Linked DNA regions of Homo sapiens: region 2 is linked to region 1. The links come from fine-mapping of genetic effects on gene expression. A gene starts in region 1. The other region holds a variant in brackets. All regions are shown on one strand. Distances are between the middles of the regions. Region 1 holds the start of HK1 (hexokinase 1). Region 2 overlaps HK1 (hexokinase 1).

Evidence for each region. PIP is the estimated chance that this variant, and not a neighbour inherited with it, causes the effect.
Region 2: its variant is the best candidate, but not a certain one, in a credible set for the expression of HK1 in monocytes (Fairfax 2014, PIP 0.54).

The regions. Positions count from the first base shown.
Region 1 is chr10:69,315,823-69,324,274 of GRCh38, forward strand. HK1 (hexokinase 1) reads left to right here and starts at 3,025. Exons shown (of 18, transcript NM_000188.3): 1 at 3,025-3,188. The coding sequence starts at 3,126. RefSeq lists enhancers at 2,039-2,268, 3,559-3,608, 5,194-6,110 and a silencer at 2,579-3,258.
Region 2 is chr10:69,336,709-69,344,708 of GRCh38, forward strand. It overlaps HK1 (hexokinase 1), which reads left to right. Exons shown (of 18, transcript NM_000188.3): 2 at 7,119-7,281. Among named protein-coding and RNA genes, the nearest start is that of HK1, 22 kb to the left of the region's middle. RefSeq lists enhancers at 373-1,060, 1,061-1,746, 2,435-3,120, 6,709-7,562. The variant A/AT (reference allele first, on the strand shown) is at 4,435.

The DNA.
Region 1 (8,452 bases):
CACTGGCTGGGCATCAGGACTAGGCTGGAGTCCTGGCTCAAAACTCTACCACAACCTGACACTGGGCAAGATGGCCCACCTGTGGCATCCCAGGTTCCTGCCCTGTAAAGAGGAGTCTGGGTGTATATCCAGATGGACTGTGAGCACAGCCTGAGTTTGCCCTGTCGAGGTGCTGAGGCCTGGGAGATTGGGGTGAGTAGCTGTGGTCCAGGGAAGGTTGGCAAGCTGGGCCTTAGATGAGAGGGGATGCTTGGTCAGGCAGAGGTGAGTGGAGAAGGCAGGGCAAGGAAGGGAATATGAGCGGCGAACAAATGGAGTGGACATGGTGGGGGCAGAGGATGGTGGGAAGTGGCCTTGTTGCGGCCAGAGTGGAGGAAGAGATAAGTGGGAAAGAGTGGAGTCGATTACAGAAGGCCTCGGAAACCAGGCAGAGATGTTTAAATTGGCTCTCTCAGGAAGGAGAGGGCCATGAAGGGATTTAGGGAAGGGTCATGACATGATTATGCTGCATTTTAGCAGGATTAATGTGACCTGGTGCTCAGAATGACTTGGATGGCATGAGGCCAGGAGCCGAGGAGGACAGTTAGAAGACTCTTGTAATATTTCTGGCACAGGGAGATGGACTGGGAGTTGGGAGGTGGCAATAGGTCAGGCCTAGAGACATTTCTCAGGAAATATTGACAGGCCTTGGGGCCTGGTTGCATTCATGGAGTGGGGAGGAATGAGTCACCTTGAGAAGCAGTTTCCCTCTCAAAGGCCAGGGAAGACAAAGCAGAGGCAGCTTTCCTGCCTGCAAACAGGACATTTCAGGGTAACCTGGCTCTTCCAAGCGTCAGCTTCTCCCTGGCTCCAGCTCAGATAGGAGTTGTAACAACGGGTTGGGCATGGGTGATGGCACCGGCTGGTGGCTGGGTTAAGGGCCATGTTTTTGATTATGCATTAGGCTTATTCAGCCTGCCAAGTGCCAGGCCCTGCGCTTGTGTAGGAGACAGAGCAATTAGCAAAACATAGTCCTCCATCCTCAAGGAGTTTCCAGCCCTGTGAGCTTGGCAGATCTGCAGAACTCAAATGAAATGGCAGTTGAGAACAACCATCTTGTTCTCATTCACTCCATTTTGCTTAACGGCCATGTAGGTAGTTCCAAATGTTTGATGTGTACCAGAAAATCTCTCTCTTCCTGGTTTATAATTATGATCCAGGGCAAATCCAGGTTTTGTTGGGCTTGAAAATTAAATAAATTGGCACTCTCTATGGAAAATAATTCAAATATAAATATACAAATATCACACTGCTAGGCCCTCCCAGGGCCTAGAAGGGTAGGAATGAAAGTGAGAGTCCCTGAAGCTTTAACCGCATTAACTTTTCAGTCAGTTCTATGATACCTGCCATTCCTTAAGTGTGTATTATGTGCACGTATTTTGCGTACAGTATTACACAACAATCAAGGGGAGGTGAGGTGGGCATTAGTGTCTTCATCTTATGGATGAAGACACAGTCTCAGAGGTGATTCAAGATGCCCCTCTGCATAGGCCCTAAGGCAGGGGGTGGGGACTGTGACCTGGACAGGAAGCTGGGGCCTCAGGACTGCATCTAAGCTCCTCCTTTTCTGTGGGTGATGGTGGCTGTCAGGCCCCTGAACCTACGTCATCCCTCCCTCTGATTTGACTGTACCTTTGCTAGGCCTGGTCAAGGGCTAGGGACTCCTAAAGTCAAGAGCTAGGGTAGAGGTTGGGGGTTGGATCTCAGGGCACCATATGGTGCAGACTTGGTTGCAGGAAAGTGACCTATTTAGGCAGAGGGGCTCTATACAACTGGGACCACAGCAAACCCTAGAGGTGAGCACCTGCTTCAAAGACTCACAGATCCAAGCTGTGATCCTAGATCTACAACTTCCTGGCTGTATAAAGTCCAGCAAGACTGAGGCCTCACTGAGCTTCAATTTCCTTACCTGTCTAACCAGAATAGCAACAACTTGTTTGTATATTTGAGCTCATTACATGTCATTTTGTAAGGCACTAAAGCTCCTGGAGGCTTCCGGAACACAGAAATAATTAATCTAAGAATCCTAAAGTGGCTGTCCTGGTAGCACCTCTAGGGAGTCCTCCCATCCTACGTAACTTCCTCTGGGAAAGTAGAAAACACGGCACCTGGGAAGGGGCGCTGAACCGTGCCCCAAGTCCCAGTGGGCCTGGATGCCCAAGAGCAAGAGGAGGCCCAGAGGATGGGGACAGGCCACGACCTGTGGCCCAAGTCCCGCCCAGAGGGAGTGCGCCCTGAGGGAGAGCCACCGGAGCTGGTGACTCGGGGGCGGGTGCTCTGGGGTGTCGCTTTGGGTTCAGCAATACAAATCTGCCAGCTGGAGATTAGGCGGGGCACGCCGGGGAGAGGTGATGCACTGCCGCTGAAGACCCAGGTAGGCCGGTGCGTTCGGCCTGGGTGAGGAAGGCGCGGGACCCGGGTGCGAGGACTGCGTAGCGTCCCCGGCTCCCGCTTCCGCCCGCTTTCCACGCCCACTTCTGCAAGTCCCCTCCGGCACCTCGGCGTCCACCGGACTCCTAGGGGCGAGCCCTCATTTCCGAGGAATGGGACCGCCTTCGTGCCCCCGGGGCTGCCAGTCCCTAGACTAGCCCTAGGGGCTTCTCGTCCCGGCGGAGCCGGGCGGTGCCTCCTGCCTGCGCCTCGCACCTCCCCGCCTGGCACGGCCCACCCGGGCACGGCGCCGCCACGCGTGAAGGCCCGCATCGGCTCCCTACGTGGGGGACGTGCAGGATGATGCGGGGTCGGGGGGGATTTCGCTGCGTCGCCCGCCCCCTTTCCGGCGCAGGAGGGAGCGGCCGCCGCGTCCCCGCTCCCCGGCCGGGACGCCACCGCCGGGCGTTGCAGAGGCGCGCCGCAACCAATGGGCGTGGAGGAGGTGGGTCGGCTGGCGGCTGTCACCCTCCAGGGGACGGGAGCGCGGAGACCGGGAGCGCGCGAGCTGTCGCCGCGCCCCGGGCCGAGGGGGAGGAGCCGGGGGAGGAGGAGGAGGAGGAGCCGCCGAGCAGCCGCCGGAGGACCACGGCTCGCCAGGGCTGCGGAGGACCGACCGTCCCCACGCCTGCCGCCCCGCGACCCCGACCGCCAGCATGATCGCCGCGCAGCTCCTGGCCTATTACTTCACGGAGCTGAAGGATGACCAGGTCAAAAAGGTGAGCCCCCGCCCGCGCCGCCGCTGGTCCTGGCCGCAGCCTTGCGTTCCGGCATCCGCTCGCCGCCTCCGCTGCCTCCATCCTCCGGCGCCCGGCCTTCTCCGGGCCAGCATCGAGTTGGACTGCAGGGCGCAAGGAAAGCCTTCGCCTTCGATTCTACCGGCATTGTCAGTGTCTCTGTGTGTGTGCGTTTTTGGGAGGGGGGCAATCGGGCGGAAGACCCCCGAGACCGGGCTGCCTGCTGCAGTGTCCTTGAAACGGGCCCTGGATGTCAGATAGGCCCCCGGGCTGTGCGGGGAGGTGGCCGGTGGGCCCTTCCGCAGGGCCTGTTCGGGAGGGTCCGAGCGCCGTGGGAGGAGGTGTGATCATGGAGATGCTGGGGAGGTGATCGAGCAGCAGGCGGGGGTGCTGGCTGGAGGCCAGGCCTCCCATATTTGGGGTTCCTGGCGGAGGGTGTCGGGTGCCCCGGAGAAGCTGTCGCCGGGCTCTCCCAGTTGTTTGAGCTGCTCGTTAATCTGAGGACGAGGTGACCCGCCCGGCTTCCCGGAACGGGGAGGGGCGGCGAGGCCACCGGAAACTTTGCTCATAGGCCTCGTGTCTGGAGCGGCACGTCTGAATGGAATTTTTTATTCCTCTTAAGCTGTAATTTCTAGCCAGCACAGGAGCTCAAATAAGCGACTGGTCATTTGAGTTGGGTGGACGCCTGTGGCATGCTTGTTCTAGCACTTGGACGCATGCATCCTCCTGTCCTGAGGTGTTGTTGCCTTTGACATCTTAGTGTAAAATACTGTCCGCTGGCAGGTCTTAAAGGTGTATTTGTCTCTTCTGCCAGCTGTGCTACCATATTTTAAAGAAACAGCCTAAGCTGTAGGGAAAGACGCCCGTTTTATCAGTGCCAGGTCTGGTACAGGCTCCAGGCCCACCCACCCTGAACGTGGTGACGTTATTGCTGGGGTTAGCTGGGATGGACTGGCAAAGTCATCTTGACTTTGGCGTTCAGACAGGTGGAGTTCTACAGGTGAAAGGCAGGAGTGACAGGCCTTGATTTTCTGCCCGGCAAGCCATAGGGTGTTCCATCCTCTTCCTGTGCATCTAAGATGACTCCCTCATCTGGCACCATAGGAAACAGGCCTACTGAGGGCAGCGACCTTATCAAGGTCACCCAGTGAGTTAGAGGCAGAGCCAGTCAGGGGGATCCAGGTCTCCCAGTGCCTCCACCCAGGAACTTCACCAGGGTCCTCCTGGAGGTCAGCTTCCAGGAGGGAGTGGGTACTGAGAGACAAAGCCGCTGGGGACCCTGCCGTGATCTTGGATCCCATGGTGGGTGGGGACCGGGAGTGAGGTAGGTAGGAGATAGGCTTGGGAATGCCATCTGCCATTGCTCTTTATGGCTTTAAGCACTCTGGGGTTGTCAAACCGTGGCACTCGAAACACTTGCTCCTATGGAGCACCCTGGAGCTTCCCTCTGGCCACTGACCTGGGAGCTGTGCGTGCGGGTGTGTGCATTTCATGAGTTTTCTCTAGTGGTGTTGTGCATCACTGATGTTCTTCCCATTGGACCAGGGAGACAGTTCTCCCGGCATGGCAAGAAGTGCCCAGAACAGGCCTCCTGAAGCCAAGAGTTCACTGTCCTCCTGCACGTGGTGTCCTTTATAGCTCAAGACAGTGGGCTGCTGGGCTGGGGGGTGCCTGGGTGACCTTGTAAACCTCCAGTGTCCACACCCACCACCACCCACAACAGACTGCTGGCTGTTGGCTGCCGGTGGCCTCCAGCAGCTGAGCTGGGCTGAGGTTTGGACTCCATTCAGTGGGACATGTTTTCTCAGACATACAGTGTCTAGGGTGGGCCCAGAGCTCTCCACTCCTGTGGGTGGCTCAATTCACATCTATGGATGCACAGTCTATCTCCTAGGCCCCCGTAGGTACCTGAGTGTGTGATTCAGTTGACCCTTCCATCCCTCCTCACTCCGAGTTTGGGATTCTGATGTTCTTCCCTTCTCTTCCCCGAGAACCTTGCTGGAGGAAGGTCTTAAGGCCAAGGTTTCCACCAGATATTATTTGTCAAGGAGATTCTTAAAAACAAGATGTTTGCTTGCATTTCACCACGGACTTCCTATGCTGCTTTCTATAGGGGAGTACGTGGATTCCTGCCAGGGGGTCCACTCATTTTGCATAGTGGACTGTGTGGCACAGCCATCTGTGGGTGTGGTCCTGGCTATGATTGCGCCACCGCACTCCAGCCTGGGCCTTCTAAGGACAGTGACATAGTGGGTACTTGCTCCAGTGACCTACTCAGTTTTGCCCAAGTGTGCAGATGCTGGGGACCACATCTGCTCTTCTGGGGCCCAGGATTTCTTAGAGACCAGCTCTTTCCACGTACCACTCACCATAGGAAAGGCTAGGTGAAGGTGCGGGACCCCCTGTTCTTCCTGTGGGGCTGGACTCTGCCTGCCTCCCAGCAGGGACCTGCTGAGGATGGTTCCCCCCCAGCGTGGGCAGCCATGATGATTCAGCCCTCCAGCTGTAGGCAGCCTCCGGGGCTCTGGAGACAGACCTGGCATCCCTCAGTAACTCTCATCTATCTTCTTGCCCTCAGAGCCAGAGGTAGGAGAAGGGAAGCTGGGGACCATGCCGGGGAAGTTTTTGGGATTGCTTAGAATCCAAACGTGATCATGAAAATGGTGTCATTTCTTTCTTCATTGCCTATGAGGCACATCAATAATTCAACTCCATAAAAATATATCCTGGGTTGAAACAGTTCAGGTGTCTGACTTCCCAGCTTGGAACCCCATTATCCAGACGGCATCTGCATAAATTGGTTAATGGGTGCTGTTGAAGAGGGTGTACTGGCATTAGGCTGAGCTAAGCACAAAACACATATATTCCTTTCACTCTTCTAGTGCCTGTAGGAGGAAAGGGAGGCATATGTGTGCTTGTGAAGGATTCCATTCATCAGAATCCCAGACATCTGCCAGTTCTGCAGCTAGAGGCTGGGTTCTTTGACCTCTAAGTAACTTTAAACACGCATCTCATCTCGCCAGCTTCTTCCACTCGGTTTAGCCATTAGGAGCTTGGAGCAGGGTGAAGGATTGCATAGTGCTCTGTTTGTTTAGAAAGGGAAGATGGGTCCAGGAAGGTCAGAACTTGGCTTCTAAAGAAAGATTAGACTTCCTTTCCTCCAGGCTTGTCAGAATGGTGAGCAAATGCCAGTGGATTTTCTCTGGGCGAGATCCCCATAACGCTAAGTGATTTCCACTAGTAGGTGATCATGAAAAGGGTGTCATTTCTTTCCTCATTGCCTTGAGGCACATCAATAATTCAACTCCATAAAAATATATCCTGGGTTGAAACAGTTCAGGTGTCTGACTTCCCAGTTTGGAACCCCATTATCCAGACGGCATCTGCATAAATTGGTTAATGGGTGCTGTTGAAGAGAGTGTGATTTGTCCAATGGCCGAACTCAGGAGTCCTTGAGTACTTGACCCAGGAAGACAGGGGAGAGTAGGCTTAGCAATTAAAGGGTTGCCCAAGGTACATTCCTTAGAGCCTATGTGTTCCAGCTGCAAAAGCAAGCATTAAAAATAAATAAATAAATAAAAGGCCGATGTAGTGGCTCACACCTGTAATCTCAGCACTTTGGGAGGCTGAGGCGGGTGGATCACCTGAGGTCGGGAGTTCGAGACCAGCCTGACCAACATGGAGAAACCCCGTCTCTACTAAAAATACAAAATTAGCTGGGTGTGGTGGCGCATGCCTGTAATCCCAGCTACTTGGGAGGCTGAGGCCGGAGAATCACTTGAACCTGGAAGGCAGAGGTTGCGGTGAGCCGAGATCACGCCATTGCACTCCAGCCTAGGCAACGAGAGCGAAACTCCGTCTCAAAAAAAAAAAAAAATGCCCATTCATTATTGCTCAGGGGTGAGAGAGGTGATAGTTAGAAAATTGTGAAAAATCTGGCTGGGCACAGTGGCTCATGCCTGTAATCCCAGCACTTTGGGAGGCTGAGGCAGGTGAATCACGAAGTCAGGAGTTCAAGACCAGCCTGACCAATATGGTGAAATCCCGTCTCTACTAAAAATACAAAAATTAGCTGGACGTGGTAGCATGCACCTGAAGTCCCAGCTACTCGGGAGGCTGAGGCAGGAGAATTGCTTGAACCGGGGAGGCGGAGGTTGCATGAGCCAGGATCATGCCACTGCACTCCAGCCTGGGCAACAGAGCGAAACTCTGTCTCAAAAAAAAAAAAAAGAAAATTATGAAAAATCTGTGGGTTCTTGCAGTGGCAAAGAAAAAAAAGAAAAAATTATGAAAAGTCAGCCTGGGCAACAAAATTAAACCTCATCTTAAAAAAAAATTTTTTTTAGCCTGCTTTGGTGGCATGCACACACCTGTAGTCACAGCTACTCAGGAGGCTCATTGAGCCCAAAAGATTGATCCCAAAACAGTGAGCTGTGATGCTATGATTGTGTTACCGTACTCCAGGCTGGATGATAGAGCGAGACTCTGTCTCAAAAAAAAAAAAAAAAAAAGAAGAAAGAAAATTATGAGAAGTGTCTCATAACCTCTCAATTCTGATGTTGTACAAATATTCAGTGAGAGCTTCTTGGTGAATCTTGACTTTATAATCCCTGCCTTTCCTACCTTAGATACTCCTAGGGTTTCTCCCAAGAGAAGCCCCATCACTTTATCTGGTTGGATAGTTTGGGAATGTCATGAAGGAATAAACTGGCAGGCAGGGTGTCTGTGAGGTGCTTTCACATCTGGCCAAGCTGTGCCATGCTCCCACGCTCCTACTGTTCTCCGGAGAAGACATAGGCAGCTTTCCCCTTACAAGACTGATTTGGCATGACTGGGACTGTCTGTGTGTGTCTGCAGTCAGGGATTCCTGGCAGACAGATTTAGCCACTGGAATCACCTCTGAGCATGCCTGAGAAGGTCCAGGGAAGACATGGATAAAGACAGGGAGCTGTATACCTCTGCATCCAGGAATCAGTTGTGGTCAGACTGCTGGCACCTGCTTATGGATTTGTTTTTATTTTTTTATAGAGACAGGGTCTCACCATATTGCCCAGGCTGGTCTTGAACTCCTGGGCTCAGGCAGTCCTCCCGCCTTGGCCTCCCTAAGTATGCTTATTGATTTGAAAACCCTGAAGATCAAATCTGATCACAGGAGCTCAATCATTTCTTTAAAAAATGTTTGATTTTTTTATTATGTGCAGAGGACTGTGCTAGGCTGGGGTGACAACTATAAACAAGGCAGAAAC
Region 2 (8,000 bases), 21 kb after region 1:
AGCTCACTGCAACCTCTGCCTCCTGGGTTCAAGTGATTCTCCTGCCTCAGCTTCCCAAGTAGCTGGGATTACAGGCATCTGCCACCACACCCGGCTAATTTTTTTTGTATTTTTAGTAGAGTTGGGGTTTCACCATGTTGGCCAGGCTGGTCTTGAACTCCTGACCTCTCAAGTGATCCACCCGCCTCGGCCTCCCATAGTGCTGGGATTACAAGCGTGAGCCACCGTGCCTGGCCGGTAGATGTATTTTTCAGGCATTGAGATGAAAGGAGTTAGGGGTACATGATTATGTCACTTAGGGATGGGAGGGAGGGAAATGACACTTGATGCTTACTTTGTTTCTGCACATTAAAATCCTCCCCATAACCCTCTGAAGTGGAGGATTTATTATCTCCATCTTAAAAGTGAGACTCAGAGAGATTAAGTAACTTGTCCAAAGTCACACAGCTAATAAATCGGATTTGAACCCAGCTCTCTGTCCACAGCCCTGTGTACTTTCCACCATGTGAGGAAAATGGAAATGCTTAAGGTGAAGCCCCAAATGGGAGGTTACGAGCCCTGGAATCTAGACCCAGCTGCCATTTCTAAACTCCCCAACTTAGCTTGAATCATGGGTCTGTTTCCTCTCCTAGATAATGGAGATAATGATGTCTTTCCTGCCTACTTCACTGGGCTGCAGTGACAGGAGAAAGGGAACTAGCATTAAAGCACCTGCTTCCTGCGTGGCACTTGGCATCCACAAGCTCATTTCACTTCTTTCTACACAGTTCAAATGGGATAATGTATGTGAAGGTCCTGTATCTGAAGGGCCAGTGCACATGTGAGCCATTGCTAATTGTGATGTTAATAAGCACCCAGGACCCGTTCTCTCTGAGTCAGTGTCCTTAGCAAAGGGAAGTGAATTCTGATGTTGAAATCTCTGTCCTCCCCTAAGCTAACATCTTTCTTAACCCTTCAGGGTGCACGCCACAATTTCCTTTTGTAAGTGGAGCGCCTTGCTTGGAAAGTTCATTTTAAAGGCCTGCGTCAGCAGCTTCAGTCACGCCTGCTGTTCTGCAGCATTCTCGATCCTCACGGGAGGGTGGATGAGAGAGGGAGTGAAATTTTCCATGGCTGTGCACCCTTCCACGGGGTGGGGTGAAAATGGCTGGGATGGTTACCAGTGGTTACTGGTGCCTCCTGCTGCGACCGGCCTGTTCACTTGGGCATGTCCAATCTTGCGTTTGTTTTTTGTGCATGTTCTGTTGGGAGCAGGAGGTGGGGCTGGGGTCGGGCACAGAAATGTTTGTGAGTTGATTGCAGTGCTAGGCCATTGAGTTCTTTCCTTGGTTGGAGGGCTCTGAGCCAGGGAAGCTTGGCGAGGCTGTGTGTTCTCTGCTGATGACATGTCCTCCTGCTCTGCGGGGGTCCAACTTTGGGAGCCGCTGAGAGCTTCAAGGCCCCCTTGGTCCACAAGAAGGAGAATCCAGGACAAGTGTCTGGAAAGTGTTTGAGCAAGAGCGCCCGCCCTGTGCAGCCGGTCTGGCTACCCTCATAGGAAGGGCTCTTCACTCTGGGCAGCGGTGGACAGAGGCCCTGGAGGCTGGATGCGGGTTCTCAGGCAAGAGTCTGAGGGACCCAGCTCGGTGTCTGATGTCTGGTGTCTGGGACTGGGCGCCTTCCCATTTCCATCCCAGCCTGACCAGACTGACCAGAGTCCCACATATTCGTCTCAGACACTGGTTTGAGAGGGAGCATTTGAGGGCCTGGGTTTCTGTCATGACTCCTGGGAACCTCTGTCTTCTGATAGATGGTCCACAGACCGAGGCTTGCAGTGGAAGCAGCTGGAAGTGGTGCTGTGCGGTGTCCTCCCCAACTCCCAAATGGAGTGTGGGGAGGGATTCTTCGGGCACTGATGTTTGGCTGGAGCAGTAAAGCAGCGGTGATGTGGAGGCAGCACCTAAGAGAAGGGGACAGGATTATGGAGATGTGAGTGTGTGTGTGTGTGTGTGTGTGTGTGTGTAAGTACTTGTGTGTGTATGTGTGAGTGTGTGAGAGTGTGTGTGTGTGAGAGATTGTGTATGTGAGAGTGTGTGTGTGTAGAGAGAGAGGGAAGAGGGGAAAAGGAAGGAGGAGAGTAAAGATCTGGAGATGCTGTGGAGAGGAGGACAGAAATAGAAAAGTTGAAAGGCCAGACTTTGGCCAAATCCCCAAAGACCAAGAGTCAGCCTTTCTTCCTGGGTTTCTGGCAGAGATCTGGAGCAACTGGGCAGGAGAGATTTCTCCAATGCCCTTTCTTCCTCCCTCTCTCCTTCAACCCACTGCCCATTCCCAGCCTCTTTCCCAGGGAGACAGGCGTGGTCCAGTGGAGTGCCAGGAGGGGCTGGTCTGAACGAGGAAGATGCGTTTTGCTCAGTGAAGTGCTGGGTTCTCTGGGCCCCTGGAAGTTTTCTGCAGGTGTCTCTAGTCATGTGCTTTTCTCCAGTGCCTCCGGGCCACTTAAAGGCCCACAGTCCAGAGGGGCATGTCTGCTGAGTCCTGCACCAGGTGCCTGCCTGGCTGGGCAGTGTGGCAGATACCAGGGAGCTGACTTCTCCCCTGGCAGCCCAGCCCCAGGCCTAGGGTATTTGCTGGTTCAGTGGCCCCTTCTGATCTCCCGAGGACCAGTGGAAAGAAAGGGCTTCCCTTCATTGTCCTCATTCATGTAAAATCCAGGAGGCCCCAGTTTCAGTTCCGGCCTTGCCTCAATTGGGCCTCCCTTTTGGCCCCAGTATTCATGTCTCTTCTGAGAGGGGTTGTACCTCATGACGACTCATGAACCTGAACAAAAGGAGGAAAACCCTCCCTCCATAGCAGCTTGAGGACCAGGCCGTTCTCTGTGTCTGCAGCCTGCTTTTTGATTTGAGCTTCTAAGCTTTATTTGGATTTAGCTTGGTTGTCCTGAAACGTTGGGGTTTTTGGATCAATGTCTGTGTGCTGAGCTGCACCTTGACTTAGAAGGCAGGATAGCTGTGGAGTTATGGAGAGCTGCCTTTTCTAGAAGCTTCTCCTGTCCAGCGGGAAAACCCCAACAGCTCTACTTGGATCTGCCTTCTGCAGAGCAGGGGACCAGTCTTTCTTAAGGGGCAGGGATGATTGTATGGAGGAGCCTTAGACTTGCAGGTATAAAACCTCACTCCCCCAGCTGTGTGCTTTGAACTAATCACTTAGCTTCTTGGACCATCAGTTTCTGTGTCTGTAAAATGGGGATTAAGAACATCTCCCAGACAGTTTTGAAGGTTAAATGACATACTGGATCTTGATATACTGATATACTGTAAGCCACAAGAGAATTATATAGTATTATTCCAGGATCCAGCATTGTTTGAATTCCTCCTTTGTGTCAAGCAACTGGGTGAGTTCCAAAGGTCTATTCAATATGTTTTCTTTCCCTGGGGAACTCACGCAGTATCATAGGAGATGGACAGCTTGGTAAAAGGATAATCATGATGTGTGAGGAGTGTGGTCGTTGGGGCGTGTCCAAAATGCTGGAGTAGCAATGTACCTTTTTTAAAATTAAAATTAAAAAAAATTTTTTGAGATGGAGTCTTGCTGCATTGCCCAGGCTGGAGTGCGATGGCGCGATCTTGGCTGACTGCAATCTTCTCTACCTCCTGGGTTCACGCGATTCTCATATCTCAGTCTCCTGAGTAGCTGGGATTACAGGCATGCACCACCATGCCCAGCTAATTTTTGTATTTTTAGTAGAGACCGGGTTTTACCATGTTGGCCAGGCTGGTCTTGAACTCCTGACCTCAGGTAATCCACTCGCCTCGGCCTCTCAAAGTTCTGGGGTTACAGGCATGAGCCATTGCTCCCGGCCTTAAAATTAAAATTAAAAAATATTTTAGAGGTGCGATATCACTATGTTGCTCAGGCTGGTCTTGAACTTTTGGGCCTAAGCAATCCTCCTGCCTCGGCCTCCCAAAGTGCCAGGATTACAGGCATGAGCCACTGTGCCAGCTAGCAATGTAGCTTTTATTGTATGATCTTGCGCTTGCTCCTCCATTCTCCACGCAGCAGACACACAACTCTCATCATGGTTGTAATCAGTAAAGCCGTCCCAAGGCTCGCTGTGCTGTGGGATCCCGCTTGTATTTGTTTATGTGGCTCATCAGGCCCTGTGTGGTTGAGCTCTGGACAGTCTTTCCAGGCACACCGTCTGCTTGTTCATCACAAAAACCACCCTCCCTCCCCTTCGGACTTCACACATGCCCTTGCTTGTGCCTGGGCATGCTCTCCAACTTCGCCTCTCCAGGAAGCCTTCTCTCCCATGCTTGCAACGTGGCTGTCTCTCCCTGCAGACCCAGGGCACTATGATGGCAAGGGCTGCTGATGAATGCCACCAGCCAGAATAGGGCATGGCTTGTCTCTCCTCCCAGGGCCATGTTTTTGGCAATTTTATTTCCTTTAAAA[A/AT]ATATATATACATATTTCTTTCTTTCTTTTTTTTTTGGAGACTGGATCTAAGTCTGTCACCCAGGCTGGGGTACAGTGGCAGGATCATAGCACCCTGCAACCTCTGCTTCCCCAGCTCAGGCAATCCTCCCGCCTCAGTCTCCCGAGTAGCTGGGACTACAGGGGCGTATCACCACGCCTGGCTAATTTTTGTATTTTTTTAGAGACGAGGTTTTGCCAAGTTTCCCAGGCTGCTCTCGAACTCCTGGCCCCAAGCAATCTGCCTGCCTTAGCCTCCCAAAGTGTTGGGATTACAGGTGTGGGCCACTGCTCCTGGCCAATTGTTAATTTTTTTTTTTTTTAGAGACAGTCTCACTCTGTCACTTAGGCTGGAGTACAGTGGTTCAATCATGGCTCAATGCAGCCTCAACCTCTTGGGCCCAAGTGATCCTCTTGCCTCAGCCTCCCGAGTAGCTGAGACTACAGGTGTGCATCACCATGCTGGGCTAATTTTTATTTTTTGTAGAGACAGGGTTGTTGCCCAGGCTAATCTCGAACTCCTGGGCTCAAATGATCCTGCTGCCTTGGCCTTGCAAAGTTCTAGAATTACAGGTGTCAGCCACCATGCCTGGCCTCTTCTGGCAATTTCTATTCTGGCTCTTGGTGGTTCCTGATTGCCCTTCTTTGAGCTGCTTTATTGTAAAGGGAAAAAGGTGGTAGGGCTAGTGGTTAGGAGTGGGGGCAAGGATCATCCTTGGGCGCAGAGAGTGTTGGCAGACATTTTGGGAGGCCTAGGTGGGTGGATCACTTGAGGTCAGGAGTTTGAGACCAGCCTGGCCAACATGGTGAAACCCTGTCTCTACTAAAAATACAAAAATTAGCAGGGCGTGGTGGCGCACGCCTGTAATCCCAGCCACTCAGGAGGCTGAGGCAGGAGAATTGCTTGAACCTGGGAGGTGGAGGTTGCAGTGAGCCAAGATTCTGCCACTGCATTCCAGCCTGGGTGACAGAGATAGACTATGAAAAAAAAACCAACCCCAAAAACAAACAAACAAACAAACAAACAAACAAACAAAGGAAAAAACACCAGTGTTAAGGTCTTTTCAGCCTTGTGGGGCTGTAAATCTGTCTCTCTATCCAGTGGGAGCCTTCTGTGTGCAAGGCTCCATGTGAGGCACTGGGGAGGTCAGGGTGACACGCATGGAAAGCTGGGATCCAGACCAGACCCTGCCTAGGGGTCAGTGCTGAAGGAGTGGTGATATCCAGCCTGAAGGACTTGGACATCTTCAGGAGGAAGTGACAGTTGATTTGAACCTTGAAGGTTAGGTGAGCTGGGAAGAAAAGGAAGGGCATTTCAGGTAGAGGTGACAGCAGAAGGAGGAGAGCCTGGAGCACCTACTAGGAATGGTAGAGGTGGTTTGGCCGGAGTTCAGAGAGCACAGAGCCACACCTGCAGAGGGTAGGTGCCTTGGCAGTGGGGAGGCATTGCAAGGCTTTGGGCAGAGGCATGACTTGATTAGGGTTGCACTTTAAGAGGCTGATGCTGCAGTGGTGTAGAAGATGGGTTGGAAGGAAGAGATTGAAGATAAACTGTTACAGTGGATCATCAGCAATCCAGGCACACAGAGCAGCAGAAAGAGTGGATGGTGAAACAAAAGAACCTTCCTCGGTGGACTCTACAGGGATAGTGCCATCAGGACAGGTGTCTAGCTCAATTCTAGGCACCTAGCTGGTGCCCAGTGAATCCTTTTTTGGGAGAATAAATGCGAAGATGCCATGAAGGACAAACAATTAGTGATAGCCAGTGACAACCCAGGGTGCCTAAGGTTAGGAGCCTGGGCAGCTTGAGGAGAACGGGGAACTCAGGAAGAGGAGCAGGTTGGGTCAGGCCTGGTGAAGGGTGGGAGTAGTTTGACTCGGAGGTGCAGGGCCCATGGCCTGGCACACAGGCCCGGCACATGGGTATGGGAGCCCAGGGGCTGTCTCCATTCATTGAGGCTGGGTTTAAGGTTTCTGTGCTCTGGGCCTGCCACCCTGTGTTCTCAGAAGGGTCCTAGCCCTTTGGCCGCCATTTCTGTCTTTCTAGAAGTCTTGCCCATGGACACCTGCCAGTACTACTGTCTCATGTTAATAATAATAGCTGATGTTTATTGAGCAGTTACTGTGTTCTAAGTGCTTGTGTCTCATTTGAACTTGTCCTATATGTTAGGTCCTATCTATCATCTCAGTTTTTCAGTTGAGGAAACTGAAATTCACACAGCTGTTAAGCTCTGGGGCTAGGATTGAACCCAGTTGGCTGGCTCCAGAGCCCTTGTTCGTAGCCTCTCTGTCATTCCCATCCCAGTGAGAGTGAGCCAGCCAATTCTCAGAGAGAGAAGGAGGCTTGAGGTGTTCCTGATACTGGAGGAAACCTACCTCCATCAAGTACTTGGGGGTTGAAGAGCAGCTTCCATGTCATATTTGAGGGTTGGAAAGGATCTTAGAGATATCGGGTTCATTTTACAGGCCAGGAACTAGGGCTCAGAGCATTTGCAAGCCTGTTCTGGGTGACATGGATGACAGCAGTTGAATGACCTTCCGCCATGCGATGTGCCAGCGTGCGTGTTCCTGTGCCTGTGGGAGCTGGCTATCTCAGCGGGTGGGTGCCTCACCTTGCCCTGTCCTCCCCCTCGACCTCACTCTCCTTCCTTCTCATCCCCCTCCAGATTGACAAGTATCTCTATGCCATGCGGCTCTCCGATGAAACTCTCATAGATATCATGACTCGCTTCAGGAAGGAGATGAAGAATGGCCTCTCCCGGGATTTTAATCCAACAGCCACAGTCAAGATGTTGCCAACATTCGTAAGGTCCATTCCTGATGGCTCTGGTAAGTCTGTCACCCAGAGATTGAACCCTGAGGGCTAAATGTTCTGTGAAATCTTCCTTCTAACTTCATTTGTTCATACATTTGCTCATTCATTCATTCACCATTCCATCAATCTGCTCTCCCATCCATCCATCCATCCATCCGCTGATCCATCTGCTGATCCATCCATCCATCCATCCATCCGCTGATCCATCCATCCAATATGTGTCTACTGAGACCTTATGCCAGTCACTGGGGATACCATGGTTGGGCAAGGCTGACCTGCTGTCATTGACTTTACTGTCTAGTGGCTTGTGATACTTTAGAAAGTGTAGTGTTTATGGGTCTCGCAGATACTGTGTGGGTTGCTCTTATGTCTTCAGAACATGAAGAACTCCAGAACAAATGAAGGGTTCATTTTAGGGAAATCTCTCCATCAGGGAATCAAAGCTTCCCTCTCTTCTTATCCCAGATAATAGCAATCCTAATGGACAGGTGGGTCTCAGACTTAAAGGCAGAGATTCCAGACCCCCTTTGGACAGATTTCACAGATGCAGAATTGAGGCAGCCCCCAAAACAAAGAAATACAGAGGGGAGGTAGAATTGAAAGAAAAATTGTATCCTTTCACTCTGCATCCTGTGGCTCATACCCTGCAGTGGGGCGTTGGGGGAGGGCCCCCTGAGGATTGTCTGTTTCTCCTCCCCAGAGGAGTGGTATCAGCCCCTGCACCTGGCTGAGC